7 linked regions of the Homo sapiens genome follow. The protein of the gene in region 2 purifies or fractionates together with the protein of the main gene of each other region. This does not show direct contact. Each region holds a gene or a part of one and is shown on either strand. Other genes may lie near its edges. The genes, in order: WDR81, BLNK, MYBPC3, MAP2K4, PLCG2, SCIMP and PPP2R2C.

Evidence for each region.
Region 1: the proteins of BLNK (region 2) and WDR81 purify together in Homo sapiens (affinity purification with mass spectrometry, with the first as the bait; one study listed by BioGRID). This does not show direct contact.
Region 3: the proteins of BLNK (region 2) and MYBPC3 purify together in Homo sapiens (affinity purification with mass spectrometry, with the first as the bait; one study listed by BioGRID). This does not show direct contact.
Region 4: the proteins of BLNK (region 2) and MAP2K4 purify together in Homo sapiens (affinity purification with western blotting; one study listed by BioGRID and IntAct). This does not show direct contact.
Region 5: the proteins of BLNK (region 2) and PLCG2 purify together in Homo sapiens (affinity purification with western blotting; one study listed by BioGRID and IntAct). This does not show direct contact.
Region 6: the proteins of BLNK (region 2) and SCIMP purify together in Homo sapiens (co-immunoprecipitation; one study listed by IntAct). This does not show direct contact.
Region 7: the proteins of BLNK (region 2) and PPP2R2C purify together in Homo sapiens (affinity purification with mass spectrometry, with the first as the bait; one study listed by BioGRID). This does not show direct contact.

The regions. Positions count from the first base shown.
Region 1 is NC_000017.11:1,730,716-1,734,935, reverse strand, and holds part of WDR81 (WD repeat-containing protein 81), read right to left. Parts: intron 4,182-4,220; coding exon 3,991-4,181; intron 3,869-3,990; coding exon 3,678-3,868; intron 2,612-3,677; coding exon 2,446-2,611; intron 2,271-2,445; coding exon 2,105-2,270; intron 1,410-2,104; coding exon 720-1,409; coding exon of another isoform or gene 706-719; intron 1-705. UniProt on the Homo sapiens protein: Functions as a negative regulator of the PI3 kinase/PI3K activity associated with endosomal membranes via BECN1, a core subunit of the PI3K complex.
Region 2 is NC_000010.11:96,191,178-96,195,397, forward strand, and holds part of BLNK (B-cell linker protein), read right to left. Parts: intron 916-4,220; coding exon 796-915; 3' UTR 1-795. UniProt on the Homo sapiens protein: Functions as a central linker protein, downstream of the B-cell receptor (BCR), bridging the SYK kinase to a multitude of signaling pathways and regulating biological outcomes of B-cell function and development.
Region 3 is NC_000011.10:47,349,903-47,354,596, forward strand, and holds the start of MYBPC3 (myosin-binding protein C, cardiac-type), read right to left. Parts: upstream 2,801-4,694; 5' UTR 2,746-2,800; coding exon 2,721-2,745; intron 1,604-2,720; coding exon 1,337-1,603; intron 714-1,336; coding exon 600-713; intron 211-599; coding exon 112-210; intron 21-111; coding exon 1-20. UniProt on the Homo sapiens protein: Thick filament-associated protein located in the crossbridge region of vertebrate striated muscle a bands. In vitro it binds MHC, F-actin and native thin filaments, and modifies the activity of actin-activated myosin ATPase.
Region 4 is NC_000017.11:12,135,657-12,139,876, reverse strand, and holds part of MAP2K4 (dual specificity mitogen-activated protein kinase kinase 4), read right to left. Parts: intron 39-4,220; coding exon 1-38. UniProt on the Homo sapiens protein: Dual specificity protein kinase which acts as an essential component of the MAP kinase signal transduction pathway. Essential component of the stress-activated protein kinase/c-Jun N-terminal kinase (SAP/JNK) signaling pathway.
Region 5 is NC_000016.10:81,911,235-81,915,454, forward strand, and holds part of PLCG2 (1-phosphatidylinositol 4,5-bisphosphate phosphodiesterase gamma-2), read left to right. Parts: intron 1-1,362; coding exon 1,363-1,482; intron 1,483-4,220. UniProt on the Homo sapiens protein: The production of the second messenger molecules diacylglycerol (DAG) and inositol 1,4,5-trisphosphate (IP3) is mediated by activated phosphatidylinositol-specific phospholipase C enzymes. It is a crucial enzyme in transmembrane signaling.
Region 6 is NC_000017.11:5,231,506-5,236,168, reverse strand, and holds the start of SCIMP (SLP adapter and CSK-interacting membrane protein), read left to right. Parts: upstream 1-1,308; 5' UTR 1,309-1,413; coding exon 1,414-1,434; exon of another isoform or gene 1,435-1,576; intron 1,577-2,226; exon of another isoform or gene 2,227-2,345; intron 2,346-4,663. UniProt on the Homo sapiens protein: Lipid tetraspanin-associated transmembrane adapter/mediator that acts as a scaffold for Src-family kinases and other signaling proteins in immune cells.
Region 7 is NC_000004.12:6,371,615-6,375,834, forward strand, and holds part of PPP2R2C (protein phosphatase 2, regulatory subunit B, gamma), read right to left. Parts: coding exon 4,205-4,220; intron 1,087-4,204; coding exon 909-1,086; intron 1-908. UniProt on the Homo sapiens protein: The B regulatory subunit might modulate substrate selectivity and catalytic activity, and might also direct the localization of the catalytic enzyme to a particular subcellular compartment.

The sequences.
Region 1 (4,220 bases), on a different chromosome or scaffold from region 2:
GCCACCTCCCTCTGTCTTCCCCGACACCATCCCTTTCCCCCTTTTAACCATATTTCTCCCTATGGTGACGCCAAAAAATAAGCAACCATTGACCAAATATCTGCTACACATGAAGCCAAAACCCTACATGTGTTATCTTCTTCTTTTTTTTTTTTTTGAGACAGAGTCTCGCTCTGTTGCCCGGGCTGGAGTGCAGTGGTGCGATCTCGGCTCACGGCAACCTCTGCCACCTGAGTTTGAGAGATTCTCCTGCCTCAGCCTCCTGTGTAGTTGGGAGTACAGGCACCCGCCACCACGCCCGGCTAATTTTTGTATTTTTAGTAGAGACGGGGTTTCACCATGTTAGCCAGGATGATCTCGATCTCCTGACCTCGTGATCCACCCGCCTCAGCCTCCCAAAGTGCTGGGATTACAGGCGTGAGCCACTGCGCCCGGCTGTGTGTTATCTTCTACGCCAGTTTTTCTGATTCTCAGTTTATAGATGGGAAAGGAGACGCTTCCAGCAGCAGGAACTTGCTCAAGGTCACTCAGCAAGTAAGCCGGTGGAGCCAATTCAGACTCAAGTCTAACAGATTCGAAGCCCTAACTGTTCTCCTAGGCGGCCTCGCTGGGTCTCCCCAAACTCCGCAGCATTACAGCCCCACCCTCGGGCCCCCTTCCTGGAGGCCTGGTGGGGCGCAGGAGCAGGAAGAGAACAGGCCTCACCTGGGCCCGCTCACCTGTGAAGGGGTCCCAGACGTGCACAGCCCCGTCACAGCTCACCACGTGCTGCGGGGCCTCAAGCTGGCCCACGAAGAAGACGCTCTTGCGGTGCTGGGTGTAGACGAGGCGTGGGGCCGTCTCGCTGGTCCCGTCGCCGTAGTTGTACAGCGGCCAGAGGCGCACGGTACGATCCTTGCTGCCGCTCAGGAAGAAGTCCTCGCTGCTTAGGGGTGCCACGCACTTGACGGCCCCCGAGTGGCCCGGGAAGCTCTGCAGGCGGATCTGGTGGAAGTGAAAGTGGGCATCCTGCTGGCTCACGCCGATCTCGTACTGCCAGTACGCCAGCCAGTTTCCGCTCAGCCCGTGCACGCTCCGCGGCAGCTCCTGCTTCAGGGCGTTGTCGTCGCTCCCGCTGCCCAGGCCCCCGCCACCCACCCCCGAGATGGGGCCCAGTGGTCCGGGGTTCTCAGGCCGAGAGTCATTGGGGATCTGAATGCGGTTCCCCACCAGGACGCTCCCAAAGGTCCCTGAGTGGCCGTCATCCTGAGGGCAGCCCCCACCATGGGGGTCCCACTCGGGCCCGGTGCCGGGCATGGTGGGCTCCACGCTGGCAGGGTTGCGACTGCTGGGGCTGATGCTCTCCAAGTACAGCGCCGCCAGCTCCCCAACCAGCTCGTGGTTGGGGATGATTTTCCGGATGATGTCACCTGGATAGGAGTGGGAGAGGTCCTGAGACAGGGAAGATGGCAGGCGGCTGCTATCACCCATCCAAGGACTCGGGAGCCACAGAAGATGGGGCAGGAACTGGCTCTGCAACTCTGGGCAAGTAACTCTGTCTCTGAGCCTCAGTTTCCTCCTCAGTGAAATGTGGATTCATTCCGTTGTGATGTACACATGAGCATCTTCTATATGTGCCGTGCCGTGCTGGGCACTAGGAATAGAATATGGAACAAGACAGGTGGTGCCCTGGCCTCCCAAGCTTAGATTTCAGTGGCAGGATGATAACAGGTGTAACCACAAGGCTGTCTGTCCTCTCCAGGGAGATGACACGCTGAAACGATCAGCACAGCACCGTGCAGGGCCCAGAGGGGAAGCTTCGTAAACAGGAGGCCACTCCTTCCCTCTCGCCAGCTCCTGCGGACCGCCAGTCCACCTCCCTGACTCTCCTGCCTTCCCCAGGGACACTACAGGCCAGCTTCTGGGCCTCTCTTGCTGGCTACTGCTCAGTCCTTGTTTGTGTGTCACCTTGGGGGTAGGGGTCTGAGGCCAAATCCCTTTGCTCTCACCCATCCTGCTGGCTCTTAGAACCCACTGCTGACTCTGGGGCAAGGGCAGAGAATGGGGCCTCCCAAGGGAGGAGACAGCCACGAAGACTGTGATGGGGAACGTGATGGGGCAGTACCCAACAGGCAGGAGAAGGGCACGTAGATTGTGTATGCCATCTCCAGGGTGAACACCTTCTGCAGCTCGTCCAGCAGGGCGGGGTCCACGGGCCGCTGCTGCCCATCAGAGAAGACCACCTGTGGCAGCTGGCCCTCACCACGGCCCGCAGGGTCCAGCTTCAGATCCTATGAGCAAGACACCCAGGGGGTCAGCCGGGTCCACAGCTCCCACCCTGGCCCACCCTGGTCCTCGCCACGGCCCGCGGAGTCCAGCTTCAGATCCTATGAGCAAGATGCCCAGGGGGTCACCCAGGTCCACAGCCCCCGCCCCAGCCCGCCCTGGCCCAGCAGATCTGCCCACCTGTTGCCGAAGCTCATGCAGCTGAGAGAAGACCTGGAAAAAGGTGGCCACGGGCTCGCTCAGGTGCTGCTGGACCATCTCCTGTCCAATGCGCAGGCAGATGAGGGCGATGAGGCTGATGGTTTTCACACACAGGATGGTCCGAGCCTGGGCCCCACTTGGGAACCTGGAAACAGAGCTCATGAGCTCCAGCCCGCCGTTCTGCAGGACTTGACCAGAATCTAGCAAAATCTTTATTTATTTTTATTTTTATTGAGATGGAGTCTTGCTCTGTCATCCAGGCTGGAGTGCAGTGGTGCGATCTCGGCTCACTGCAACCTCTGCCTCCCGGGTTCAAGCGATTCTCCTGCCTCAGTCTCCCGAGTAGCTGGGACTACAGGCATGAGCCACCATACCCGGCTAATTTTTTTTGTATTTTTAGTAGAGACAGGGTTTTGCCATATTGGCCAGGCTGGTCTCGAACTCCTGACCTCAAGCGATCCACCCACCTTGGCCTCCCAAAGTGCTGGGATTACAGGCATGAGCCACAGCACCCAGCATATATATATACTTTTTTTTTTTTTTGAGACAGAGTCTTGCTCTGTCGCCTAGGCTGCAGTACAATGGCGTGATCTCAGCTCACTGCAACCTCCGCTTCCTGGGTTCAAGCAATTCTCCCGCCTCAGCCTCCTGAGAACCTGGGATTGCAGCCTCCCGAGAACCTGGGATTGCAGGCACCTGCTGCCATGCCCAGCGAAGATTTTGTATTTTTAGTGGAGACGGGGTTTCACCATGTTGGCCAGGTGGGTCTCAAACTCCTGACCTCGTGATCCACCCGCCTTGGCCCCCCAAAGTGCTGGGATTACAGGGGTGAGACACCACGCTCGGCCTTTATATATATTTTTAGAGAGGGGGTCTCATTTTGTTGCCCAGGCTGGTCTTGAACTCCTGGGCTCAAGCAATCTTCCCGCCTCAGCCTCTCAAAGTGCTGGGATTACAGGCATGAGCCACCGTGCCCGGACATATCAAAAGCTTTAAATGAAAGAGCTCCAAGACCAACTGGTCCAAACCAGATGAGGAAACTGAGGCACAGGAAAAGGGTGTGGTTTGCTCAGGGTCACACAGCCGGGATCAAAACCAGGACTCTTGACACCCAGTCCAGTGTTACGTCCTCTCCCCTGAGCTTCCCACCCCCTCCTGGGCAGCCCCTCCGCTGGGCCGGTCCCCCTACATCAGCTGGGGCAGAGGCCTACCCCGTGACGAGGGAGGTGAGGAAGCTGAGCACGGGCAGCAGGACCTCATGGCTGATCCGGGGCAGGATGTCCATGAGTGTGGTGTCTGAGAGGTACACGATGATCTTCTGAGTCAGCGTCACCGCGGCCAGCAGCCCCGCCTCCTTACGGCTGTTCAGTCGGCTGGGGCCTGAGGCACTCCCTGGGGCCACCTAGAGCCACCGAGCAGATGAGGGCCGGGCAGCCCCACAGACCCCCTGGCACCAAGAGAGCCCGGGCCGGCCCTCAGGTCCTCAGCCTTCCCAGCCCCGGGCCTGCCAAACCAGCGACTGACCAGGTAGCTGATGTAGGGCAGGTACTGGTAGGTGAGGACAGGCTCCCCATACAGGCGGGCGATGTGGAGGAGGCAGCTGAGCACAGGCCCTGACACGATGTCGCCCAGGACCGGCCTCTTCTGGTAGATGTTGCCGGCGCTCAGCGGTGGGCTCTCGCCACTGCTCACTGTGAACTGCTGCCGAGTGGGTCCTGCCACGGAAGGGCCAGCAGCCCTGAGTCGCCAGTGGA
Region 2 (4,220 bases):
TTCTGCCATGATTGTGAGGCCTCCCCAACCATGTGGAACTGTGAGTCCATTAAACCTCTTTTTTTTTTTTTTTTTTTATGTAAATCACCCAGTCTTGAGTATGTCTTTATTAGCAGCGTGATAATGGACTAATACAAACCTCATATCAAGTTTAGGTTCTATTTGATAGACATGTAGATCAAAGAGGGTATAATTATCTTTAGTAAGCAAAACTAACAGCATAATCCTAGACAAGAACTTATAGAAAGTTCATATCCATATATATATATATCCCATGGTTGAGAGTGCTCACAAAAAGGAACCATTACATCCTTCTTGCCTATACTTACAGATATCATACATTACCTTTAATACCTTATTTTCTACAAATTAAAATTTTAACCAAGACTTAATTGTCAAGCATTGGCAGTGGAGAGCCCAGCTACATTAGTGTACCAATGATCATTGTGGAGGTTTAAATTTCCAGCCACTTTGTTTTATGCAAGAGCATTATTTTCTTATTTTGATAATATACTTTACACTTATTTTTAAAAATAAAAATATTTATTTGGAAAATATTAGTAGCATGATAACTCAACCTCACCAGATATTAACAGTTCATCAGGTCAGGCAATAGAACAAGTCCACATGAGCTTCTTAAAAAGAAATGGATGACCACTTCAATAGCTGACTCCATCTTCCATTTTATTACTGGATGATTCATAATCCAAAATATGAAGTTTTGGGACTTTTTCTCAAAAGGAGAAACTTTGGGAAAGTGTCTGAAGCAATGGTATTGATCTTTTTTTTCCCCCTTTATGAAACTTTAACTGCATACTTCAGTCTGGTGGAATCTTTTGTGTTATTCTGACTGTCAATAAGAACCAAAGGACTATGTTGATGATTCCTGATGATTTCAGCAACACTTCCAAAGTACTAGAGGAAGAAAACATAGATGAATTATACTTTGGCATTTGTGTTAAATTTGAGCTCCACTCCTCCCATCTTCTCTCATTCTCAAGTTAGTAAAAGTTATTACACCCCAGCTGACATTCTGCACAAAAAAATCTAGTTTAACAAAGGCTGTAACCTTCAAGGTGGCAGACCTTGGACTTTGCTGTATTAAGTACGAAGAAAAACACACTGACAGCCTCAATTAGCATAGCTACTTAGAGAGATTACTTCACTGAGTTATGATAAAATATTATAGTATATTGCTTTTTATTTACCGTTAAATGTAAAACTATCATACAACGCATTTTTCTACATTCTTTACAAAACATAGATCATCTCTTACTTTGCACAAGTCTCAGATACAAGAATTGATGTAATAAATTAACCTTAGAAATTTAGTACAAGGAAATAGTCATCTCCTAAACAAAATTATGTTTTGTTTTCTTTTTTAAACAAATAAAGAAAGCTTTATAAACCTTCATATTTCCATTTTTACTTGGTTCCTGGTAAGCTTAGAGTTAACTTAGTGCCTAATTAATAATGAAATTTCATGCTAGGCTCTCTCCATACATACTTATTTTTCCAAATTTTGATCCTTGTTGTCTATGGGTTTTAATTTAAAATTATCACAAATTTTGTTCTGAAAAATAATTAAAGTTTTGAAGGAAAGATAAAAACAAATGTAACACAGATCATGAAATTAAATTCATTGAGTATACAAAAGTGCTACAAGTTCACACTCATTAAATGTATTTAGAATCACTTTTTAAAAGTGGTGATTGTTTTACAACAGTGCCATGAGTTTAGCAGTTACTATCAATTGATTTTATTTTCTCGATTTTTTAGATAAAGACAAACATCCACAGTAAAATTTTTAAGTGTTTATTAATTGTTTGGATGACTTCCAAGTAGCTACATATTGAATAAAGTAAAATATTCAGAATATTGGCCAACATTTCCAAATGAAATACCAGTTGTCTTTTAGATAATTGGCTAGCTGAATATTCAGTCAGGGAGAGAGGTAAGAGACAGGGACTTTCAAATACCTTTAGTCTTTATTCTTTACTTCCTATTCAATCATTCAGCCATCTTGCAATTGCCAAAGAAATTCTTTCATTATAAATCCCATTAAACATTCATTCTGCTTGTTTGGCATAATATGTTGCTAAACCAAATGCAGTTGAAAGTTAAAGTTATGGACTCAAGGGCCAGAAAACGAAATAGCACAATCTCTTTGAAGTGGATTACAAGGGAAAAAGTGTGTCCTGAACCTAGGAAGCATAGGAGAGGATTGCTGTACTTATACAAACAAATATCTCATTCCGTCCCTCTAGTCCCTGAATATTTGTGAGTATTGCCTTGTTGTGGTGTTCGGGGATTGAAGTGTGTGCAGTAGGGAGTTGAGCTGAGTTGAAACATTTGAAGTAGGGAATGAAGTTGAAGAATATTTGTGATTTAATTTAAAAAAGAATTGGGCATAACATAGTTACAGCTTCCCCTCACTCTCCTTTTTTTCTGTTTTTATTAATTCAGTGTATTTGAGACAGATACATTCAGTGTATTTGTGGACAGAAAAACAACGTATTGGCCACTAAGATAAAGCAGACAGTTGTCAAAACTGTAAAATTACTCAATGTTGTATCACACAGTGCCAAAATAGCTGCATAAACAGTTAAATAGTTAATGAATTGGTTACTTTTTCTAGCCATGTACACACAAATACACACAGACTTTCAGAAAAACTCCACATGATTGACATCATGTAACCAACACTTTAATTTTCCATTCAGATGTTCAGTGTATAGGGGACATAATCTTTTTATTATAGATACTTTAAGTAAGAGTTTTAATTGACTGTCAGTACCTCCAGATGCTATTATAGTAATATATTACTTATTTTGGAATCCATAGGCTGAATATGTTGGAAGTGAGGTGAAGCTCTAGTCTATTCATTCTAAAGTGGAGATGAAGATTCATCAGGCCAAGAGGAATTCCTGTTTACCAGAGTTTCCTAGCAGGACAACGAAATCCAGAGCCCCTCAGGGAGTTCAAAATTTGTGAGAGAATTTCAGGACCTCGAAATAGGACAGCTTCTTCACCCACCCTTAAGCCTCTTATAGAAAAGCTAGACTGCTGGAGAAGCTTTAGGATGTTAAATGATAATGCGGTCTACATTTTAAAACCAAAGATTGGTCTTGATTAGTGCCCTTAGATTCAAGAGTTTTGCATTTTAAAATTATCTGAGACTTTGTTAAAAGCAAAATAAAATTCCCCAATATAAAAATTCTAGAAGAAAATGTAGGGGGGAAACACCATGACACTGGATTTGGCAATGATTTTTTGGATATGACATTAAAAGCATAGGCAAAAAAAGCAAAAATAGAGAAGACAATATCAAGCTTAAAAGCTTTTGCTCAGCAAATAACACAATCAACAGAGTGGAAAGGTAACCTATGGAGTGGGAAAAATATTTGCAAATCATTTATCTGATAAGGGGTTAATATCCAGAAACATAAAGAACTCCTAAAACTCAGCAACAACAAAAATCAAATAACCTGATTATAAAATGGAATAGACATTTCTCTGAAAATGACTTACAAGTAGCCAAAAAAGCATATGAAAAATGTTCAACATCACTAATCATCAGAGAAATGCAAATTTTTTTTTTTTTTTTTTTTGAGACGGAGTCTCGCTCTGTCGCCCAGGCTGGAGTGCAGTGGCGCGATCTCGACTCACTGCAAGCTCCGCCTCCCGGGTTCACGCCATTCTCCTGCCTCAGCCTCCTGTGTAGCTGGGACTACAGGCACGCGCCACCATGCCCGGCTAATTTTTGTATTTTTAGTAGAGACGGGGTTTCACCGTGTTAGCCAGGATGGTCTCGATCTCCTGACCTCGTGATCCGCCCGTCTCGGCCTCCCAAAGTGCTGGGATTACAGGCGTGAGCCACCGCGCCCGGCCAGAGAAATGCAAATTAAAACCACAATGAGCTGTCTATCACCTTACACCCATTTGGACGGCTACTATAAAACAACAACACAATTCAGAATATAACAAGTGCTGGTGGGGATGTGAAGAAGTTAAACCCTCGTGTGCTGTTGGTGGAACTGTAAAATGGTGCAACTGCTATGGAAAAAAGTATGGGAGGTTCTCAAAAAATTAAAAATAGAATACCCATATCATCCAGCAATCCCACTTCTGGGTATATACCCCCAAATAATTGAAAGCAGTGTCCTGGAGAGATTTGCACACCCGTGTTTATAGCAGCACTATTCACAATAGCCAAGAGG
Region 3 (4,694 bases), on a different chromosome or scaffold from region 2:
TGAGAAGGTGATGCTGCCACCTGCAAAGGCAGGGGCGACAGGCCCGGCTTGGGGAGTGTCCTGCTGCCCCCCCTTCCCACCCCAATGCTGGGCACAGCAGCTCACACTCACCCACGGTCACCTCGCCATCCTGTGGCCGCATCACGAAGAGGCCAATGGGGTCATCGGGGGCTCCAGGGGTAGGACCATTGAGAGCTGCTGAGCTTGACCCTGTGAGCAAAGGCTTTTTCTGTTTGTTTGAGATGGAGTCTTGCTCTGTCACCCAGGCTGGAGTGCAGAGGCACAATCTCGGCTCACTGCAAGCTCCGCCTCCCAGGTTCACACCATTCTCCTGCCTCAGCCTCCCAAGTTAGCTGGGACCGCAGGTGCCCGCCACCACGCCCGGCTAATTTTTTTGTATTTTTAGTAGAGATGGGGTTTCATCATGTTAGCCAGGATGGTCTCAATCTCCTGACCTCATGATCCGCCCACCTCGGCCTCCCAAAGTACTGGGGATTATAGGCCTGAGCCACCGCACCTGGCCCAGCAAAGGCTTTTGAGACCTGCCCTGGACACGCCCTACCCACGGATCCTGCCCCTCCCTGCCCAGCCCCTCTCACCTTTGGGACTTGGGGCACTTTCTCCCAGCTCAGCGGCTGGGGCCGGGGCTTCTCCAGGGGCTCCAGTGGCCTCAGCAGGGGCAGGGGCAGGGGCCAGCATGGGCTCTGCCTTCTCTGGAGGGGATCAGATGGGAGTCGTGGTGCAGCCACTAACCAGAGACCCCTCCACCCTCTCTCTCCTGAGCATTGGACCCATGAGCCCGCTGTGGATGAGGAAAGTCTGCCATGGCTGTCCTCCCGCTGCCTGGGCCCCTCAGAGGCAGCTCATGCTGAGCTGGAGAGCCAGCCTGCCTCTCACATTCTCCTCCCCGTCCCAGGCCATCAGTTCCCATGTCCTCTGCATCTGCCCTGAACAGCTCCAGGTCCATCCCTGCTCTGCCCCAGCCTTAGAGCAGCCCCTCAGACTGGGCTGCACTCCCCTCATCCACAGCTCCTGGGGCTTCCCGGCCGTCTGTGCAGGGTCATCTCCCCAGGGAGGTCTGCAGGGGGAGAGTGGGGTTGTGTCTTGTTCATCTCTCCCACCTACCCCATGGCTGGAACAAGCCAGGATGGCACATGGGGGTACTCAGAGAGGTCATGTGCAGAAAAGGGGGAAAGGGCGTTCCTGGCGGGGGGCACAGCCACAGCAAAGGCAAGAAAGTGTGAAAGCACCTCCTGTTCCCTGGATGGATGGAGAGTCGCTGGGCTGCCCCTCCCCCAGCAGCCCAAACCTCAGGGAAGGCTGATCAGGATCTTACCTGCCTCTATGACCTTGAGGTCGAACTTGACCTTGGAGGAGCCAGCAATGACTGCGTAAGATCCCTGGTCGGCAGGGCCCACTTCCCGCACTGTCAGCGTATGCCGTGTGCCCTCTGTGGCCAGGCCGTACTTGTTGCTGGCGCTGATGTCACTGCCTCCGCGCTGCCAGCGCACCTTCACTCCTGCCCGCTCTGTCTCGGCCTCGAACACGGCAGGGCTGCCTGCGGCCACTTCCACTGACCGTGGCTTCTTGCTAAAAGCTGAGACTGAAGGGCCAGGTGGAGGCTACAGCGGCCCCTGGTTGGAGCGTGCACCCCGCCCCTGCAGCCCCTCTCAGTAAATACTGTGCTAGCACTTTCTATGCATCCCCTCACGTAATACTCTACCAGTTCTCTGAGGTAGTTGCAGTTATTCTGTTCATTTCTCAGAGGAGGACACTGAGGCTCAGAGAAGCTAAGCGGCTCCTCCAAGATCACACAGCTAGCAGTCGGGAGAGCCAGGGCTGTGGTCCTGACCTCCCAACAAGACTTTTTCTGCATGTGTCCACTTTCCCTGCTTGGAGACACCCGTGATGAACCCAGCTCCCTTTCCCCCAACCATTTCGGGCCCTTGGCAGGGGGCGGGGAAGTCTGCCTACTTGGAATGTGGCCAAATTTGTCCTCCAAGGACCTCAGGCTGGGTATCAGCAACTGAGATAAAGCTGGCCTGGGAGGGCGCTGGGGGATGGGGACCTGGATCTCTGCCCTGGACAACCTTCATAAGGGCACAGCCCAGGCCCAGGTCCCTGGGCTGTGATTTTCCCTGCCCTTGGCCTGGGTTCAGGGGCTCCTGACTGTCCTCTCTCAGAGAAGAGGGGCTGTGTCACCCTCAACATGGGGGCCACACCGTACAGGCTCATGAAGCAGATAATGTCACAGCCAGGAGGAACCAACCCAATGCCACCACCACCCCCGGCACCCCAGGTTGGGAGACTGAGACCCATAGTGGGTAGAGACTGGTCTGAAGGCATGCCGTGAGCCTGGCTCAGCTCCATACTAAACGTGGGCTCTGTCCGCGGGGAACCTTGCTGTGGAAGGTGAAGGCAATGGGACAGGGAAGGGGTCCCTTTGCATTCTCAGAATGGGTTGACCCCGGGTGCTTCCTGTCTTGGCTGTGTCCCCTCTCTGCGTCCCTGACCTTGGGTTTACCTTCACCTCTCATCAGAGGGATGGGAAAAAGAAACCGAGAATCAAAAAAGGACCCTGGAGGACTGGCTGCCCCTGTCCTGGGGCTCAGAGGCCACGTCCTCGTCAACCCCCTCAAGAACTCCCTCCTAGCCCTGCTCCCCAATTGTAGACACCCCCCTGCTCCCACACTTAGACCCAACCCCAGTCCTAAAGCTACCTGGCTTCTTCCCCGGCTCAGGCATCCTGAGAGACGTCACACCAGGCACGAAGCAGGCACAGGTCACCCAAAGAGGGACTGAGTGGGGTCCTGTCCTTCCCACTATATATGGGGACCTCCCCCCTCCCCAGGCTCTGCTTATCTGCCTCCTGTCCAGCCACCTGCTAAATATAGATGAATTCCAGAGAGCTGAGGTCTCTCCAGGGAGAAGGTAGGGCCACATTGTCCCTGGCTGGCTCCTGTCCCTTCCCCCCTCACCCCCCGCAGCACAATTCTGCCTCCCCAACCTTTGGCAAGCCTCAGGGGTACTCCAAGCCCCGTGTGTGTCCCTCTTACAGCAAATTGTACGGTGGGAGCATGCTGGGCCCATAACCCTAAGGCTAACGGGTCAGGAGCATCCTCGCAGGCAGTTCAGGCAGTGGTCATGTCCACAGACCCTGGGGCCAGGGTGTCTCTGAGTCCTAGCACTGCCATCTCTTTAATCTCAAAGCACCTGGTTTCCTCATCTGTAAAGCGGGGTGGGTGAAAGCAGCACCCACTGCACAGGATTGTCACACGTATGAAGTGGGTTTATAATTTTAAAAATGTTAGGCCGGGTGTGGTGGCTCATCTGTAATCCCAGCACTTTGGGAGGCCGAGGCAGGCAGATTATTTGAGGCCAGGAGTTTGAGACCAGCCTGGGCAACATGGCAAAACCCCATCTCTACTAAAAAAATAAAAAATAAAATAAATACACACACACACACAAATTAGCCAGGTGTGGTGGTGTGGACCTGTAGTATCAGCTACCCAGGAGGCTGAGGTGGGAGGATCGCTTGAGTCCAAGGAGTTCCGGGCTGCAGTGAGCCAAAATCGCACCACTGCACTGCAGCCTGGGTGACAGAGTGATAATAATAATAAAAATATTATTTATTATTATTTTTTATTATTAATATCTCAAAGAATAATAATAAAAAAATAAAAATGGGCTGGGCGAAGTGGCTCACACCTGTAATCCCAGCACTTTGGGAGGCTGAGGCGGGCAGATCACTTGAGCTCAGGAGTTCGAGACCAGCCTGGGCAACATGATGAAACCCCATCTGTACAAAAAATACAAAAATCAGTCAGGCATGTGACGCACACCTGTAGTCCCAGATGCTCGGGAGGCTGAGGCAGGAGAATCACTTGAGCCCGGGGGGTCAGGGCTGCAGTGAGCCATGTTCGTGCCACTGCACTCCAGCCTGGGCAACAAAGTAAGACCCTGTCTCAAAAAAAAAAAAATAAAAATAGAAGAATGAAGACACAACACCATTTTGCCTTCTCTTGTGGCCCTGCAGTAGGACTAGGGAGCTGCAGGGTTGGGCTGCAGTGAGCCCTCTGGGGTTGAGGAGGTGTGGGGCGGGTATTTGTCCCTACGATAATGGCCCCAGAATCTGGGTTCCCTAAGGTCTTTGACAGCGTTGGGAAGTCCCTCACTCCCAGGCTGTCTACTGCCACTACTTGCTACCGTCTGGAGGAAAACACAGGACTTACAGGCTTCTCCGCTCAGCTTGGTCTGTTTCTCCCCTGCTGTGGCTAGGAGCTAGAAAGCAAATAGAACCTGGGGGTCCCACCAGGGATTCACTTGGGTCTAAAGTCCTGCTGGGCGTGCAGCTCGTGAGAACCCTTTGCGGCCCACAGGAGCTTTGGGGCTTAATTCCTGTCCTCGGAATGCTGAAGAGTATCCTCTTCCAGATAAGCAAGGCCTCCCACTCCATGTTGACGTGTCGGGACAGACCTGGAGTGTGATCCAACTTGGCCACTCAACGGCTGTGACCTTGGGGAAATAATTTGACCTCTACAAGCCTCAGTTTCCCATTCTATAAAATGGAGTGATATTAGACTCCACATCTCAAGGTTGGCAGATACTAATTGACCAGAATATCAAATGTTGTTGCTGGTCATGGTCATCATCATCATCATCATCATCATCATGAGTTCAAACCTCATCAAGGC
Region 4 (4,220 bases), on a different chromosome or scaffold from region 2:
CTTTATACTTTGGCCTTTTGGATTCATCCTTCGTAAGGCTAAAATAACATAAAAATAACATTATTAAAATGTAGATTCATTTGCCTAAGTATTTTTCTTTTCACAGATGAAATATTACAAATAATGAAATAGTTCTTTCCTTCAGATCCAAAGTAACAACGCAGACAGCCTGCTAAACACAGTAAAAGCACATACAAAAAATTGTGAGTCTATAATCTGAAGATTTATCTCTAGGATAGTCAGTGTAGGATGATTAGTTAAAAATTAGAAAAAATATTAATTCTTGAAAATTGACTAAATTATGGCATAGCTACACAGAATACTACAGTTAAATATATAAATGTTTTATAAGTATAAAATTATTTGTGTACATATATGCTTTTCTAAATGTAAATAAATAAGTAGACAGATATTTATGCAGATACTACCCAAGAGAAACCAGCAATCAAGTAATTCTGGGAGATAAATTACATATACATTTTTATCAATTTATCCTTAAGTTTTAAAAAAGTTTATACTCTGTATCTCAATATGTTCTTTGGTCCAAAAGTTTAAAACAATATAACTTCACTGAAGACTACATCAGTATATAAAAATGTCTGCTCTGTTGACATTTTCTCCTTGAATTCTACCTTGCCTAATTAAAGCTGCCAAAAGTATTTTCATTTTGTTTATATTTACCTCATCTATCTTGGCCCATATCTTAATCACCATTCCCTTCCAACCTCAATTAATATTTTACTATCAAACATGAATTAATATGGGTAACATAGTTCACCTCTTTCTAAACTCATTGCTGTTTTCCATATCCCACACCTTCTGTAACAGATACTGCAATGTGCTATGTAGATTCCCTCTTTAAGAAGGAAGGACTTATTCTTCCACTGTGGGGCAAGCCGCCAGCAGACAACCCTTTACTATCGGCCTCTTCAGGATTACCACAGCTAAAGACAGCCACCTTAGCCCTCCTGGGACAGTCCATCTCTAATGACTGATCCACAAAAGTGAATAAAAATCCAAGACCCTCATTCCAAGGCAGGTCAACACAGAGTTGGCTGAGGCCTTCAATGACATGGCACTGCAACTGAACTTCTTCTGCCCAATCTCGTTTCCTTCTCATTGGTAGTGTTGATCCCAAGATCACTACCTAGTCAACTTCCTACACTCTTATCTCTGTCTCAAAAGCCTGCTTTCCAGGCATCCAACCTGTGACATCCTTCTTCTGGGTTAACTTCTCTTCTTGGTCAAGTACAGATGGCCCTTGAGCAACACAGATTTCAACTGTACAAATCCACTTATACATGGATTTTTCTTCTGCCTCTGCCACCCGAGATAGCAAGACCAACTCCTCCTCTTCCTCAGTCTATTCAATGTGAAGACAAGGATGAAGATCTTTATGATGATCCACTTCCACTTCATAAATAATATATTTTCTCTTCCTTATGATTTTCTTAATAACATTTTCTTTTCTCTAGCTTACTTCATTGTAATAATACAGTATATAATACATATACAAAATATATGTTAACTATGTTATCAGTAAGGCTTCTGGTTGACAGTAGGCTATTTGTTAGTAGTCAAGTTTTGGGGTAATCAAAAGTTATATGCGGATTTTTGACTGTACAGGGGGTCAGCATCCCTAACCTCCACACCATTCAAGGATCAAAGCAGTCTATAAATTGTAAGTGCTCAGTCTTCCCATTCCTAAAACTGTATTTCTTCCTTACTGTGAATATTTGAGTGTCTGAGTCTAAAACTTTAGGACCAGGCTGACAATTATTTTCCCTCAGCACTCTGGTGCTGTGACTCCACTTTTTCCTGCAACTATTGTGGCTGGGAACAAATCTGCTGTTAGTCTTATTATCAATCCTTAACAGATAATCTGTTTTCTCTTCCTGATATTGCTCGGTAATTTTGCTTCAATACATAAATGATGATAAACAAAGGTATAAATTTAAAGGTAAATTTAAATATAAATTTAAAAGGTAAATTTATACCTTTGTTTATCATTTATGCACTGAAGCAAAACTACAGAATATCAATTAAAATTTACTTTTAAATTTATATTTAAATTTACCTTTAAGCTTATACCTTTGTTTATCCTACATGATAAAGAGACTTCACTTTCAATCTGAAAACCTATACTAAATCAGTTCTCAAATGTTTTCTTTCCCCTATGATCTCTGTAAACATTGCTTCTCCACTTTCAGAGTTGCCTTCTTTATTTCCATTACATGCATCTTAGAACCTCTAACTCTGCAATCTGTTCTGATTCTTCACTGCTTTTCATATAATCTGTGCCATGCTGGGGGAACGTCTCAGCTCCTATTTCCCTAATTTTGTCTTCAATTATTTCCAGTCTAGAGAACATCAAGTCTGTTGTGTCTTTTATATCAACAGCTATGATTTTTCCATTTCCAAGACTTCTATTTCCAACCACTTTATTTCTTCCTCAGTTTTAATTGAATTTATACCTTTATTTCCTTGAGCATCCTAAATATACTGATTTTCTTTTACAGCATATTTCAGACAATTTCATAAATCTATTTCAACTTAAAGTAAGTTTCTGTTCCATTTTGTTAAATGCTTTCTTAGCATTACACTTCAGTATTCAAGAATTATGATTTGCAGACTCATTTTGAAATAACATGTTTACCCTCCATGCATATCCATTCATTTGTTCAACATATGTCTGAGTGCCCCACTAATCACTATGAACTGAACTGGGAGCCAGGGATACACACATAGAGCAGTTTTACAGTTGCCTCTATTTCACAGGGCCACCAGTATCAAACAGGGTCCTGTAATGGACCTTTCAAGTTCCACTCCTATGTTGGTATTAGGACAATTACAGTTCCAGTCCTCTGGTTGCAAAACCAGTATCTAAAGCCTTGTCATTGTGTAGTACCATAGCTTGCTTAAAGCTGTGGCCCAGGAAGTAACTGATATCATTTTTTTCATTCTCCAGAATGAAAAATGACCTGGAATACAGCAAGTCCATGGCATCAGATCTACACAGCATTCTGTCAGTATTTTTGTTGCATTTTTTCACCCACACAGAGGTTTGCTTTCTTTGTAAAGCTGCCATACCTTTCTGGTTTTGTGTTTTTCTATTTCATCTACTGGAGCAGAAAATTATGTCAGTGTATAAACTTATGATGCTATTTGGGTTGAAATCTTAAACTATTAACATTGACTGTCTTCTTTTTCTGAATTACAGCTGACACTAATAATGTTATCAATAATTATATTAGCTCCCCTTAGACTATCTAATAAGGTAGCCGTTAGCAAACTTAATTCCAATAAAAAATGCATTTCCTTAGTTACATTAGCCACATTTCAAATGCCAGCAGCTACCACACTAGACAGAGCAGATTATAGGACATTTCCAGCATCTCAAAAAGTTTTATTGGGAGAGCTTCAGCTCTGTCTTCTAGTTCATTAATCTCTCTTCAATGATATCTAATCTGTTGAATGCAGCTATTGTTTTAATTTATGCTTTTTATTTCTAGAAGTTCTATTTGGTTCTTTATAAATGTGTTCCCTGCTTATATTTCTAAGCTGCCTCTTTTTCTTTAAACTTATTTTTTGTTTCCTTTCATTCCAATATTTGAAGCCTTTGCAGATCTATTCCTACTATCCATTGTTTCTGATTCTCATTTCTTTTGTGAGTGTTGAGATTTTTTTGTGGACTACATATTCCACTTGACTTTATTTTTTGGAATCATTTAGTCCTAGGCTGAATGATTTGCTTTTGCTTCTGCCCATCAACTGGGGGCAAGAGGAGCATATCTTTCCAACCAGGGACTCTGAAAAGTAATTTTTCTTAAAATTAAATTCTCTAAGTATTTTTACCATATTCAATATGAATTTAGATGGCAAATCTACATTTGCTTGGGTTATCCTTTAATTTACTTTGACTCTTCCTTCTCTCCCATAATCTCCCTCCCTGAATTTCAGTCAACTTCAGAGCTCCATGGATTCCTCAGTTTTGCACCAACTCTTTTACATTTTAAGAGGGACTTTAGGTGGGGCACGATGGTTCACCCCTGTAATGCCAGAACTTTGGGAGGCTGAGGCAGGCGGATCACCTGAGGTCAGGAGTTCGAGACTAGCCTGGCCAACGTGGCAAAACCCTGTCTGTACTAAAAATACAAAAATTAGCTGGGAGTGGTGGTGCGTGCCTGTAGTCCCAGCTACTCAGGAGGCTGAGACAGGAG
Region 5 (4,220 bases), on a different chromosome or scaffold from region 2:
TTTTTTTCACTTTTTCTGTCACATTTTCCTATGGATTGCCTCTTAAAACTTGCTATTTCTTATCTTAAGAAATAACCCGAAAACAACCCAAAACCTTGTGAAACTCCTGCTGTGATCTCCGTCTTCGATTTTCTGAGACACGTGGCAATAACTGTGCCTCCCTGGGAGCCTGGCTTTTCAGGTTTGGGCTGCTTGGGTGGATGAAGATGAATCAATTTTTTGAGACAAGGTGTTGCTCTGTTGCCCAGGCTGGAGTGCAGTGGAACAATCACGTCTCGCAGCAGCCTCGAGCTCCTGGGCTCAAGTGATCCTCCCACCTCAGCCTCCTATCTGGGACTGCAGGTGTGTGCCACTGTGCCCAGCTAATTAATTAATTAATTAATTAATTAATTTTGAGACCGGGTCTCGCTCTGTCTCCCAGGCTGGAGTGCAATGGCACGATCTCAGCTCACTGCAACCTCTGCCTCCCAGGTTCAAGAGATTCTTGTGCCTCAGCCTCCTGAGTAGCTGGTATTATAGGCGCACGCCACTGGGCCTGGCTAATTTTTGTATTTCCTTTTTTTTTTTTTTTTTTTTTTTTTGGGACAGAGTCACATTCTGTTGCCTAGGCTAGAGTGCAGTGGCATGATCTCGGCTCACTGCAACCTTTGCCTCCTGGGTTCAAGTGATTCTCCTGCCTCAGCCTCCTGAGTAGCTGGGACTACAGGCGCCTGCCACCATGCCTGGCTAATTTTTTGTATTTTTAGTAGAGACAGGGTTTCACCGTGTTAGCCAGGATGATCTCGATCTCCTGACCTCATGATCCACCCGCCTCAACCTCCCAAAGTGCTGGGATTACAGGCGTGAGCCACCACGCCTGGCCCAATTTTTGTATTTTTAGTAGAGACAGAGTTTCGCCATGTTGGTCAGGCTGGTCTTGAACTCCTGGCTTCTCGCGATCCACCTGCCTTGGCCTCCCAAAGTGCTGGGATTACAGGCGTGAGCCACTGTGCCCAGGCTATTTTATTTTTTATAGAGATGGGGGTCTCATTGTGTTGGCCAGGCTGGTCTCAAACTCCTGACCCCAAGTGATCCTCCTGCCTCAGCCTCCCAAAGTGCTGGGATTTCAGGTGTGAACCACTGTGCTCGGCCCAATGTATTATTTTGGGCTTGAAACAGACCCCTGGGGTCTTCCACTATTCTTTTCACAAATTCTCTTTGCTGAGGTGCCTTTGTCTGGGGAAGCCCACTGTGTGATTTCCATGGTCGTTTCCAGGGCCAGGTTCCAGGTGTCACTGGTGCCATTATCTTGTCCTCTGCGGGTGGCCCACTGACAGCCTGGAGACCGCTCACCTGGTCGTTTTCCCTGGCCCTGTGCCGCAGGTGGTACTATGACAGCCTGAGCCGCGGAGAGGCAGAGGACATGCTGATGAGGATTCCCCGGGACGGGGCCTTCCTGATCCGGAAGCGAGAGGGGAGCGACTCCTATGCCATCACCTTCAGGTGGGTGCGAGGGTGGGAGGCACATGCTCTACAGAGGGGCTTGGCAAGGACAGATGCGGAGAGACAAGGGGGAACTTCAGGTGGAGGCTCACCTGCAGTGCCCTGCCCCCCCAGCATCAGCGACAACAACAACCACCACAGCAAAAGCCGCTGCGAGAATGTGCGCTCCTGCGTGCCAGGCACAGTCTGCGTTCTCCAGGGCAGGATGTTCTGTAGTAACTCACTTTGGCTTCCAGTAACTCTGTGGGGTTGACATGACCATGATCCGTGTTTCTCAGAGGAGGAAACTGAGGCACAGCAAGATTAAGTAACTTGCTGAAGCATGCAGCCACTAAGTGGTGGGGCTGGGATTCGAGCCCAGACAGCCCAGGCAGCCCAGGCCTGTGATGATATAGATCTGGTTTCCTCCCAACTGCAGCTGCTGCCCAACCACCTCTAGGCCTGTGGTTCTCTAATGTTACCCCAAAACGCCAGATTCTCCCACTTCCACTAATGACAAGGAGCCGAGGAGTGACTCAGACTCCGTGTAGCCTACTGTCCCTCCATCTCCCCAGCCCCAGGGTTTCCCTGCATGTTCTTACGGTGGTAACAGTCTGCTATATGTTGAGTTCCTAACCGTGTTCTAGACACTGGACTGCCTTCAAGGCCTCATCTGATTGAATCCTTTGCTACAGCCTGTGAGAGGTAGGTCTAGTTATTGCAAGGGAGGAAACAGGACCAGAGAGGTTAAGTGACCTGCCTGGAGTCACACAGCCTCATAGTCAACTGAGTTTGAGGTTCAGATGCAGGCCTGTCCGTCTCCAAAGCCTAAGCTCTTCACTCCAGAGTCTCTAGCCAGAGGCCTGGGGGCCAAATCTCCAGCCAGAGGCCTGTGGGCGTCTTTTGTACACTGATGTGAAAAACTGAGAAATTTCACTGAAAAACTCAGATTGCTTCTTGTGAAAAATGGGAGGCAGTGGATGCTCTGGGCCTGTGTTTCCACATGGGCGCGGTGGTGCTGGCTGCATGGCAGCTACTGTGGGGTGTGTGGTTTGCCCCTGTCCACTCCTCTCCCCATTCCCTCTGCCCTGATCCCATCCCCTGGTGACCCTGCCAGGCTGCCCCCTGGGCGTTTGGATTTCCCTTCCTCCTTGCCTGCACCACTATGCCTGAGCCACCTCCCTGGGGACCGTGGTGACGGTCATTATCACTATAGTTTACTGAGGACCTACTGTGTACTGGCTCCAGCCAGAGAGCAGCCTCCCACCAGCATGGCTTTTCTGTACTCTCTGTTCCCAAGAGGGTGACCTGGGCTTCTCAGCATTGGTGCCTCTGCCCTTTGCTCTTTCCCCTAAGCCTCTTAGTGGTACCTCCTCAGCCTGGATGGGGAGGAGGTGTGTTCAGTCCGCTGCACACGGATTGAAAACCTGCTGTGTGCCAGGCCCCAGGTGGGGTGTTGGCACTCCCACTGTGCTGTCATCCTGTGCAAATGATGGCAACTAAACCCAACTGGCTGAAACTGAGGTGCCCAAGCGGTGAGACAGCTCTGACACAACCGGATCGGGGCCTCACCTGATGATGGTCAGGATGCCACCTGTATGTGCATGCTGGCGTTACTCTCCATCAGCTTCTGTCTCAGGTGGCTGTACCTTGGGCTGCCAGGACAGTGTCCGGCAGAAAGGATGGCCCCCTCCCTGAGCCAGGTGGCATGATTCTGACAGGCCATCTGGGGATGGGGTTGGGGTCACTTCAATGGGACCGCGTGAATGAAGAGGTTGGGTGGGTCCTCAGGTTGATTGCCTGACTTACATACACGCCCCATTCAGTTTGTGAGCTTGTCTTCCCCATGAGATTGGAGGTGTCTTGAGAATGGAAGTTTTTATTTTTTAGAAGTTAATAGATGTTTGGTGAGCACCTACTGTGTGCCGGGCCCTGTGCTGGGCTCCAGAGATGCAGGAGTGATAAAAACAGCCCAGTCCTTGCTCTCTCAGGCTAATGGTCTGGCAGGGATGAGAGACATCGCCTTACTCCAAGTGTTTCTTGCTTTTGACCTGTTCCTGCTTATGTAACATTGGCTGGGATGTAGTTGGTGGTTGGTGAATGCTGGCTCAGTGAATCAATCAGCAAGGATGGCCGCTCCCCACCTCACCCCATGGCCCACTGTCAGGGAAGCTCAGTCCACACAGTGTTTCTCAAAGAGTTGGGGTGTGAGGACTGATCCTGTTGTATTTGGATGTTGAACTTCCCTGGTCTCTACCCACTGCATGTCTGTCTGGGACCCTAAGTCATTGTAACAATCAAAAATAACATCCCTGCCCCAGGACACACACTTTTTCAAACCCTCTCTGGTCAGGGTATGGGGTGAAGCGTCACTGTCCTTCACTGAGAAGCACTGAGGAGGTTTGAGCACATAAGGAAATCAGTGTAGTATTTTGTGATGAGTGCTACAAAGGGATTGGTCAGGCAGGGTGGTGGAGGGTGAGTAGCTCTCCAGGGAAACGGATGGGGAATTTGGACCAGGCAGTAGGGGAACACAGGTCTGCAGCAACTTCTCCTTGCCCTCTACATATTTGTAAAGTGCCTCTCCTGTGCCAGGCACTGTTCTGGGCTCTGGGGATGTGTAATGAACTTCTGGATAGATTTCCCCAGTAGAGGAGAAACACCTGCTTTCAAATCCACAAAGGAAGTGTTGAGTTGTTGCCCGGCTGTGATTGGTGGAAGGCATCTCTTGGGCAGTGAAGCTGAGACCTCAGGCTGTG
Region 6 (4,663 bases), on a different chromosome or scaffold from region 2:
TTGGGAGGCTGAGGCAGGAGAATTGCTTGAACCTGGGAGTCGGAGGTTGCAGTGTGCTGAGATTGAGCCACTGCACTCCAGCCTGGCGACAGAGTGAGACTGCATCTCAAAAAAAAAAAAAAAAAAGAAAGAAAGAAAGAAAAAGAAAAAAGAAATTAGTAAACACTGCAAATCAGGAATCTTCTGAGCCAGATGTTTTGTTTTGTTTGTTTGAGATAGAGTCTTGCTCTGTTGCCCAGGCTGGAGCGCAATGGTGTGATCTTGGCTCACTGCAACCTCCACCTCGCGGGTCCAAGCAATTCTCCCGCCTCAGCCTCCTGAGTAGCTGGGACTACCGGTTCACACCAAAATGCCCAGCTAATTTTTGTATTTTTAGTAGAGATGGGGTTTCACCATGTTGGCCAGGCTGGTCTCGAACTACTGACTTCAGGTGATCCACCCGCCTTGGCCTCCCAAAGTGCTGGGATTACAGGTGTGAGCCACCGCACCCAGCCAGAGCCCGGTGTTTGTTAAATTTACCAGACATATATCAGACATTATCAGATATTTATCAGACATATCTGGTTATCATTATTACTGAAATGGATAACAACTCATTCGCTCTGGGCAAATACAATGCACATCCGTTTGCCTATTTTTACTAATGTGACTGCTCATTTGAGTCAGAACCAGCCAATTCAACAAAATGGCTAATTGGTTTCCCCACTCCAACCCCCATGGTCAGAGGCCGTGGGCCTCGCTGGGAGTTCTGTCTCACAGTATTGCACGAGGGGACCCAACTCAGTCAAAATGCTCCACTGGCCACATTTCTCAAGGTCGCCACTCACACGCCTTTAGAAACAGGAAGCCTGTCCCTTGCCTCCTCCAAGCAGAAGATGTCTCAGCAGTTCCAAGGTGCACAGGAGCTTTCAAGAGTCACCTTCATGGTGAGATGGTGAGTTTGTCACACATGAGCTGGTTTCTTACCTGGATCTGTCTCTGCATGGGAGCTGGCGTCCTGTCGCTCTTCTTGAGACTGAGGTTGCCACATCCAGGAATGCTCACGGCAAACTCGTCTGTGGGGACACCAAACCCACCCCCACTGCCAAGTCTCCACCCTGGCCCCTGGCCCCTGCCAGGACCCCCTACCACACCATGAGGGTCCTCTGGTAGGCCTTGCGGGAGCGACACGGGGCAGTGAGAAGATTCTGGCTTCTGGACAGCCGTGGGTCATGAGCTTCCCTGGAAAAGGGATGGTTGCCTAGAGATGACGCCAGGGTCTCTGCCCCGTGGGCTGACTAGAAAGGGGAAGTGGTCAGGATGGGGCTCACTGTCTCTAGCAGTGGGTGAAGGCCTGTGAGTGAGGAATGCCTCTCACCAGCTGTGCCTGAGCTGCAGCACTCCAGCCACTGCTGTCTCCTTAGCTGCTCACATATGGATACTTTCACAGTTCAGGTAAGCATCTCAGCTTTCCAAGGGACAGTTTCCTGCTCTCTTCACAGCAGACATCTGCCAGCGCTGGCATCAGGGCGTGTCCCTGGGAGCCACCGATCAGCACTGGGCCAGGGGATTGCAGCCTGGGGCCCTGGTACGACTGCTGTGTAGGGTTGGAGAAAAACTTGCATTGAAGGATCTGCTCTACTGGTAACTGGCTGAGTGACCTGAGGCATCACTTCACCTCTCTGGGCCTTTTCCTCATGTGTATGTCAGGGGCGATGAAGAAGTCTACCTCTTGGATTGAAATGAGATAATGACCGGGAGTGAGAGGTCTCAACTGTAACGAGTTACTCTCACTTTCTGGATGCCGATGGTGTGTTTTGGGACTTGTTATGTGAGAAGACTGTCATGGTGCTATGCTGGAGGTGGGGGTGGGAGCGAGGCACTGACTGTGTCAATTTATTTATTTTTATTTTATTTTGAGATGGAGTTTCGCTCTTGTCGCCCAGGCTGGAGTGCAGTGACGTGATCTCGGCTCACTGCAACCACCGCCTCCCGGGTTCAAGCGATTCTCCTGCCTCAGCCTCCTGAGTAGCTGGGATTACAGGCACCCGCCACCACACCTGGCTAATTTCTGTATTTTTAGTAGAGACGGAGTTTCACCATGTTGGCCAGGCTGCTCTCGAACTCCTGACCTCAGGTGATCCGCCCGCCTCGGCCTCCCAAAGTGCTGGGATTACCGTAGCATGAATTTAGGCTACGTCTTGGGGCTCTTGGATGAAAGACCTGGATCACCTCCAGTCTTGGTACCTTTGTCATTGCATCTCTGGCTTTCAGTAGTTCATTAGGCACCTTCCCTTCCAGAGGCCTCGAGATCAAAGTGTGTTGGGCTGGCGTGAGTTCTCGGTGTAGCCATCTGCTTTTGCCCTCTGGAAAATTATTTTGAGAAGAGATCTGGGTTTGGCTTTGCCATATCCACTCCCACTGCCTGGTGTGTCCACTTGTCCCTGAGGTCTTGGCCATGAAGCAATGTGGAGCACAGGCTTCACTCTGCTTCAGTGGTAAATAACTACTGAGAGGCAGGCGGGGCATGGTGGCTCACGCCTCTAATCCCAGCACTTTGGGAGGCCAAGGTGGGCAGATCACAAGGTCAAGAGATCAAGACCAGCCTGGCCAACATGGTGAAACCCTGTCTCTACTACAAATACAAAAATTAGCTGGGCATGGTGGTGGGCGCCTATAGCCCCAGCTACTCGGGAAGCTGAGGCAGGAGAATCGTTTGAGCCCGGGAGGTGGAGGTTGCAGTGAGCCAAGATTATGTCACTGCACTCCAGCCTGGTGACAGAGCAAGACTCCATCTCAAAAACAAACAAACAAACTACTGAGAGGCTTAAAGCAAGGAAGGGACAGGGTCACACTGGTATTTGGCAGCCAGTGGGGAGCCCAGTGGGGGCTAGGGGCCAGCGAAAATGCAATGGTCCAGGTACAGAGATGAGGACTTGGACTACATTTGGAGGCTGATGGGCTGAAGCGGGGTGGGGATGGGGCCATGGGAGAAAGAGGAATGAGGCAAGGTTTCCGGTCTTTTCCAGAAGTGAAAGTATAGAGAAGGGAAGAAGAGAGGCTGGACTCCTTTTAATGACCCTGCCGTGCACTTCCCCATGCACACTTGGGTTTTAAGTTGCCAGTGACTATCCACATGGCCATTTCTGGTGCTGACATCAGTGAGAAGGACAAGTGGAGCGAGGCTCAGTGGCTCACGCCTGTAATCCCAGCACTTTGGGAGGCCGAGGCAGGTGGATCACTTGAGGTCAGGAGTTTGAGACCAGCCAGGCCAACATGGCAAAACCCCATCTCTACTAAAAATACACAAAAATTAGCCGGGTATGGTGGTGCGTGTCGGTAATCCCAGCTACTCAGGAGGCTGACACAGGAGAATAGCTTGAACCAGGAAGTAGAGGTTGCAGTGAGCTGAGATTGCACCAGTGGAGTCTAGCCTGGGTGACAGAGCAAGACGCCATCTCAAAAAAAAAAAAAGAAGAAGAACGAGTGGGAACAAGGCCTCACTTAGCATGAACAGCAACAGTCGGGGAATTAGAGGTGAACTGGGGCAAGAACTGCTCATGCCAACCGGCCTAAATGTTCTCTACAGCCTCTCAGACCCTCGAGATCTAGACTGAGATTAGTTCGAACCCTCATTCCAGGCCTGCCGAAGTCCAAAGCCCTCCCCAGGACTTCTGTGGACTCCCGAGGAGCCCACCTCTTTTTCCATGGTCAGCAATGGGCCTGCAGCCTCTGTGGGTAAAACTGTTTACACTGCGCTGTTTACACTGCACTGTTTGCACTGTTTATACTGTTTATACTGCACTGTTTATACTGCACTGTTTACACTGCACTGTTTATATTCCACCCCTTTCTTAGTCCCCCACACCCCTAGAACAAATCTGCTCACAAAAGAATTGGCAGATGCAGCAGACTTTACCAAAGACTCAGCGGGGGACCACCAGAGGGGCTTGTAACGCATCAGCGCAAACAACTGCACACAGAACATAACACGGCGCTGCTCTGAAAATGTCTTTGCCAGCCCATCCCTGAGCATTTTCTATCAGCTCCTCCTCTTGATACCAAATGAGGCCCATTCTGCTCATCGCACAGTAAGCCAATCACTGAGGTGACCAGTTTTTTTTTTTTGTTTTTGAGACGGAGTCTCGCTCTGTCGCCCAGGCTGGAGTGCAGTGGCGCAATCTCGGCTCACTGCAAGCTCCGCCTCCCGGGTTCACGCCATTCTCCTGCCTCAGCCTCCCGAGTAGCTGGGACTACAGGCGCCTGCCACCATGCCTGGCTAATTTTTTGTATTTTTTAAGTAGAGACAGGGTTTCATTGTGTTAGCCAGGATGGTCTTGATCTCCTGACCTCGTGATCCGCCCGCCTCAGCCTCCCAAAGTGCTGGGATTACAGGCGTGAGCCACCGCGTCCCGCCAAGATGACCAGTTTTGCAGCACAGAATGCATTTATTCATGAGGCAGCCAAGTGAGGAGATGGGAAAACAGGTCTCAAACCCACTTCCTCGAAGATGGGGTTTAGAGACGTTTATGGGACAAAGAAGCAGGTGGCCTAAGGTGTGGGGAAGGTGATTGGAGGGAAAAGTAGGACATCGGCAATCTGTGCAAGCCTAGTCAAGCTTCATCGTTCTTCATAGGATGCAGGTTCACAAAATGGTGGCATTAGCATGATGGAAGATGGAGTT
Region 7 (4,220 bases), on a different chromosome or scaffold from region 2:
GGCCTGGGTTTCAGGCCCAGCTTTGACACTTGCTGGCTGTGAGCTTTGAGCAAGTTAACTTGAGTGCTCTGTGACTCAGTTTCCTCATCTGTAAAGGAGACTTAGAATAGTACCTACCTCATAGGGTTGTTGTGAAGGTGAAATGAGTTAAAATGAATGCTTGTTGATGTTAGTCACAGAGCCTGGCACACAGAGTCTCACTGTGTGTTATTATAATTATTATTATCATTGGTTGTATGCAGAATAGTGACATCACAGCAACCTGCCTGCCCGCCCACCAGCCCCCCGGCAGGCCAAGCCTCGCCCTGCCTGCAGGCTGGTGCTCATGTCATCACCAGCTCTCTTCCCAGCAGTCGGCGGGAATCGTCAATGCTGCTGCTTCCCCTAGCTTGCCCTGACACAGGAGAACACCGAGCAGGGGGCCCTCAGGACCCCAACCCAGCTGGGCTTCTGACACCCTGGTTGTCACCCGAAGCCCTGGCCGGGGCCCCAGTGCTGGTCCTCCTATGCTAACACAGCCTGCCTTGGGTCCCAGTGGGGAGGGCCCCGAGGCGCCTTCAGTGGACGCTGAGCAAGGCCAGCAGTCCCTCGTCCAGAGCAGCTGAACCCTGAACTCTGTCTCCTTCCTGGCCCCTTGTGAGGCCCTAGGATGAGGGGATCATGGCCATGCTGGAGGAGGCGATGGGTGCAATGCTCAGCAACCACGACTTTGCGGTTTTCAGAAACAGACGTGACATGATTTTGTATCTGGGCCTCACACGCATACTAGGAGCCAGAGGTGCCTCACTGAAGAAGTTAAACAATGCAGCCATCCCCAAACCAGCTGTCTGCCAATCAAACCAAACCCACCACCCAACGGAAGCTACTCTGCCCGTGGGAGGCACTGGCCAGGCCACAGTGAAGGATACTGAAGCTCCTGTCGGTGATGGCCAGGTGCCAGAGGTTGATGCGCAGGTCATCCGCCGACATGTAGGTCTCGCAGTCACTGTTGACGGAGATGGAGTTGATGTGGTAGGTGTGGCCATTGGCAAAGATCCTCCGAGGGCTCACCTCCACCATCAGATCCATGGGCTTCAGCACTGGCACCTGCAGAGGATGAGGAGGCAGGGAAGAGGTGAAGGCCAGGTGGTGGCATCAGGACATAGCATGCCGTGAGCATGTGATCCCAACCGGAGGCTGGAACACAGGGGTGGGCGTCCATCCTGATCCTCCGTGGTCTGAAATAGGCAGTGACAGATGGCAAATGCCCGCCGCCCACCAGCCCTGCAAGAGAGGCATGGATGCTTACCTGCTGTGGGTCTGTGAATAAGTGGCTGAACCCTCCTATACCCCAATTTCCTCAACTCTAAAATGAAACAAAAAGATACTGTGGCAGAGCCAGCCAATTGTCTGCCAGGCCTCCTCACCTCCTCCTGCAATGCAGTGCTGTCACTGGGAAACAGCTGTCTACATGTGGACTACATTTCCCAGCAGCCTTTGTGCCCAGACATGGCCACATGACTAGTTCTGACCAATGGGATGTGAGCAAAGTGATACCTGGCCCTGATGCAGCTAAGCAGCGGGAGCACCTTCCCCACCTGGAAGGTGAGGACCCAAGCCTTAGGGACTGAGACTCATGGGATGGGGATGGAAGGATCCTGCAGGAGAGCTGTGTCCCAACCAGCACATCCACATCGAACCTTCCCATAGTGAGAAATGCATTTCCGTGCTCGGCCCTGGACTGCTGGTGTTGTTTTGTTACAGCGGTGGAGTTAGCCTGACTCATACGAACTTTCATCTCAGACAGTTGGTGCGAGGAGTCCTTGCCATGGCATCAGACACTGAGCTTTCACAGCCCTGAAGGTCCCTTGCACAGCCCTGACCAACCCTGAGGCTGTCAACTGGTCCCATCAGCTTTCCCAGTGGACTAGGGATCAGCTACGGGAGCAAGGCGTCACCTCTTGTTTATCTCTCCATCTCTCTAGCGCTCAGTCCAAGGCCTAGCAGAGAGACTCTCCAGTGAATGAGTGAATGTGTGAGAGAATGAATGAATGGGCTGTGTCCCTGAGCTCTCAGGGAACAGCTGAGATGGGAGGTGACAGCCTCGGTGCTGCAGTCGGAGTGACAAGCACTGAGCTCCTTTGGAGCAGAGGCAGCTCTGCAGCCCACGTTAAATTTTCCCACACACCAGGGCACCCAGCCTGTGTGTGTGGGAGTGTGCATGGCTGAGAGTTCATGTATGAGTGTGTGCATATGAGTGTGCATGTGAGTGTGCATGCATGACTGAGTATACGTGTATGTGCATGCATGTGTGTGTGTGTGTGTGTGTGTGTGTGCACGCAGCACCGGTGTGAGTGACAGCCTGGCTCTGGGTGGTTCTTGCATTGTTGCCTCTGTGTCTTTGCTTCTAGGTTGTGTGCCTGGGAGTTGGTGTTAGTGTGACTCCTCCAAGGCATCCTCCCTGCACGTATTCCTGTGTCAGATATTTTAGCTATGCTGCTAACCTTCCCTTCCTTCGGGGTGCAGCCACTGCCCACCCTGGGGATCCCTGGACTCTCAGGAGAGAGAGGGAGCCCAGCTGCTCTGGAGAAGGGCAGAGCATCACTGGCCCAGCAAAGTCTTGGCATCTCAGTCCACCTCCTGCTTCCTTCCGGCAACATTGCTTTCTGTTTTCTCCAGGCGGCCTTGGGACCCAGTTCATCCAGTGCTCCAGCCATTTGCTGCCATCCACCAAACCAGAGCTCAAAACCAGTTTTTTAGTAAAGAGAAGAAGAGAGAAAGGAAACCTTCCCTGAAGGTTTGGGGGTTTCATGAGTAAAACATGCTGCCTCCGCAGAAGCCACAGTCTAGTCAAGATGAGGGGCAAGGAAGATACAGACACTAAGGACAGACAGTGTCGGATCCAAAAGGCAAGAGGGGACACAGGAAAGATCACAATTGTCATCTGGCCTGCGCAGAAAGGCTTTACAGAGGTGAAGGCCAGTAGGGTTTTATGGGATGTATGGGAGTTCACCAAATTGACAAAGTAGAGAAAGGCCTCCTGGGGTGCCCACGGCCTCTCTGTGTTCCTCTGTCACCGCACTGAGCGCCAGTGTGATGGCGATTCCATGTCTGTTTCCTTGGGGGCTGGGGACACTTTGGGGACAGGTACTGAGTTGAACCTTGCTCACCTCTAGGGCCCCAAGGGCTAGCCCGGGGCCTAGCGTGGAGCAGCTCCTCAGTAAACAGCTGCCTCCAGTGTGAACTGCGCAGGGTGGGTAGAATGCTGTGCAGGGTTGGCGTGGCGTGGGTGAAATCGGAAGCAAACAAGGTGAGAGGCAGGATGAGGACAGACCAGGGCACCCAGGTTCTCAGTGACAGTTAAGTGTCTTGGGATGTGTGTGACTTACAGAGAAAAATCTCCAACGCTGGGAGGGACATAAACAGGATTTTTATGAAGGCCACTGGCTCTGCCCCAAACACCAGGGTGATCAAGATGTGATCGCTGTATCCTTCCCTCTAGATGAAACCCTCATAAACTTTCTTGGGACGGGGGGTGGGGCAGGGGGCACCAGCACCCTCATTACTCAACATCGAAGCTAATCGGCTGCCCACTTCCTCAGAATTTATTTGTGCAATTTGCCAGTCATTTAGGCCAATGTATTTAAACATTTATTTCTTCTTCTCAGGAAGAGCACTGACTACTGCTTTATATTTATGGCGGCTCACTGGATGCTGGGCACGTGTGTGTCTGTTTCAGGGTATGTCTGTTTCAGGCCTTTGTAGATGCTGAAGGCCTCACACGGTCCAGGCTTCCTTCTGCCCTCAGTAAAGGACTCAGGAGCCACAAAGCTCTGCTGACCCATTCTCTTTCTGCCTCTGCCTACTCACTCAGCTGAGCAGTTTTAGGTGAGTTGCTGTCTCTCTCTGGGCCTCAGTTTCCCCCTTCTTATAACAAGGGATTATCTGCCTTGCTCTCCACCCTCAGCTATAGGTGAAAAGCACTTTACAGCCATACACCACCCCTGCATGCTCACAAGAAGCCTAGAAGAAACGTGGTCATCTGTATGCTGCTGGTGAGGAAACTGAGGCAAGGGGCAGGAAGACGCCCGTGGCCGCCCAGCAGCCAGCAGCCCAACCAGGGTCTGCACCTGACTCTGGCTCAAATCTCAAAGGCTTTTCCAGCCCTAAAATCCTCAGGTGTAATAAAGAGGCGTGTGCCTGCTTCCCCCTCACCGGAGCTCACCTGCAGTGACGTCACC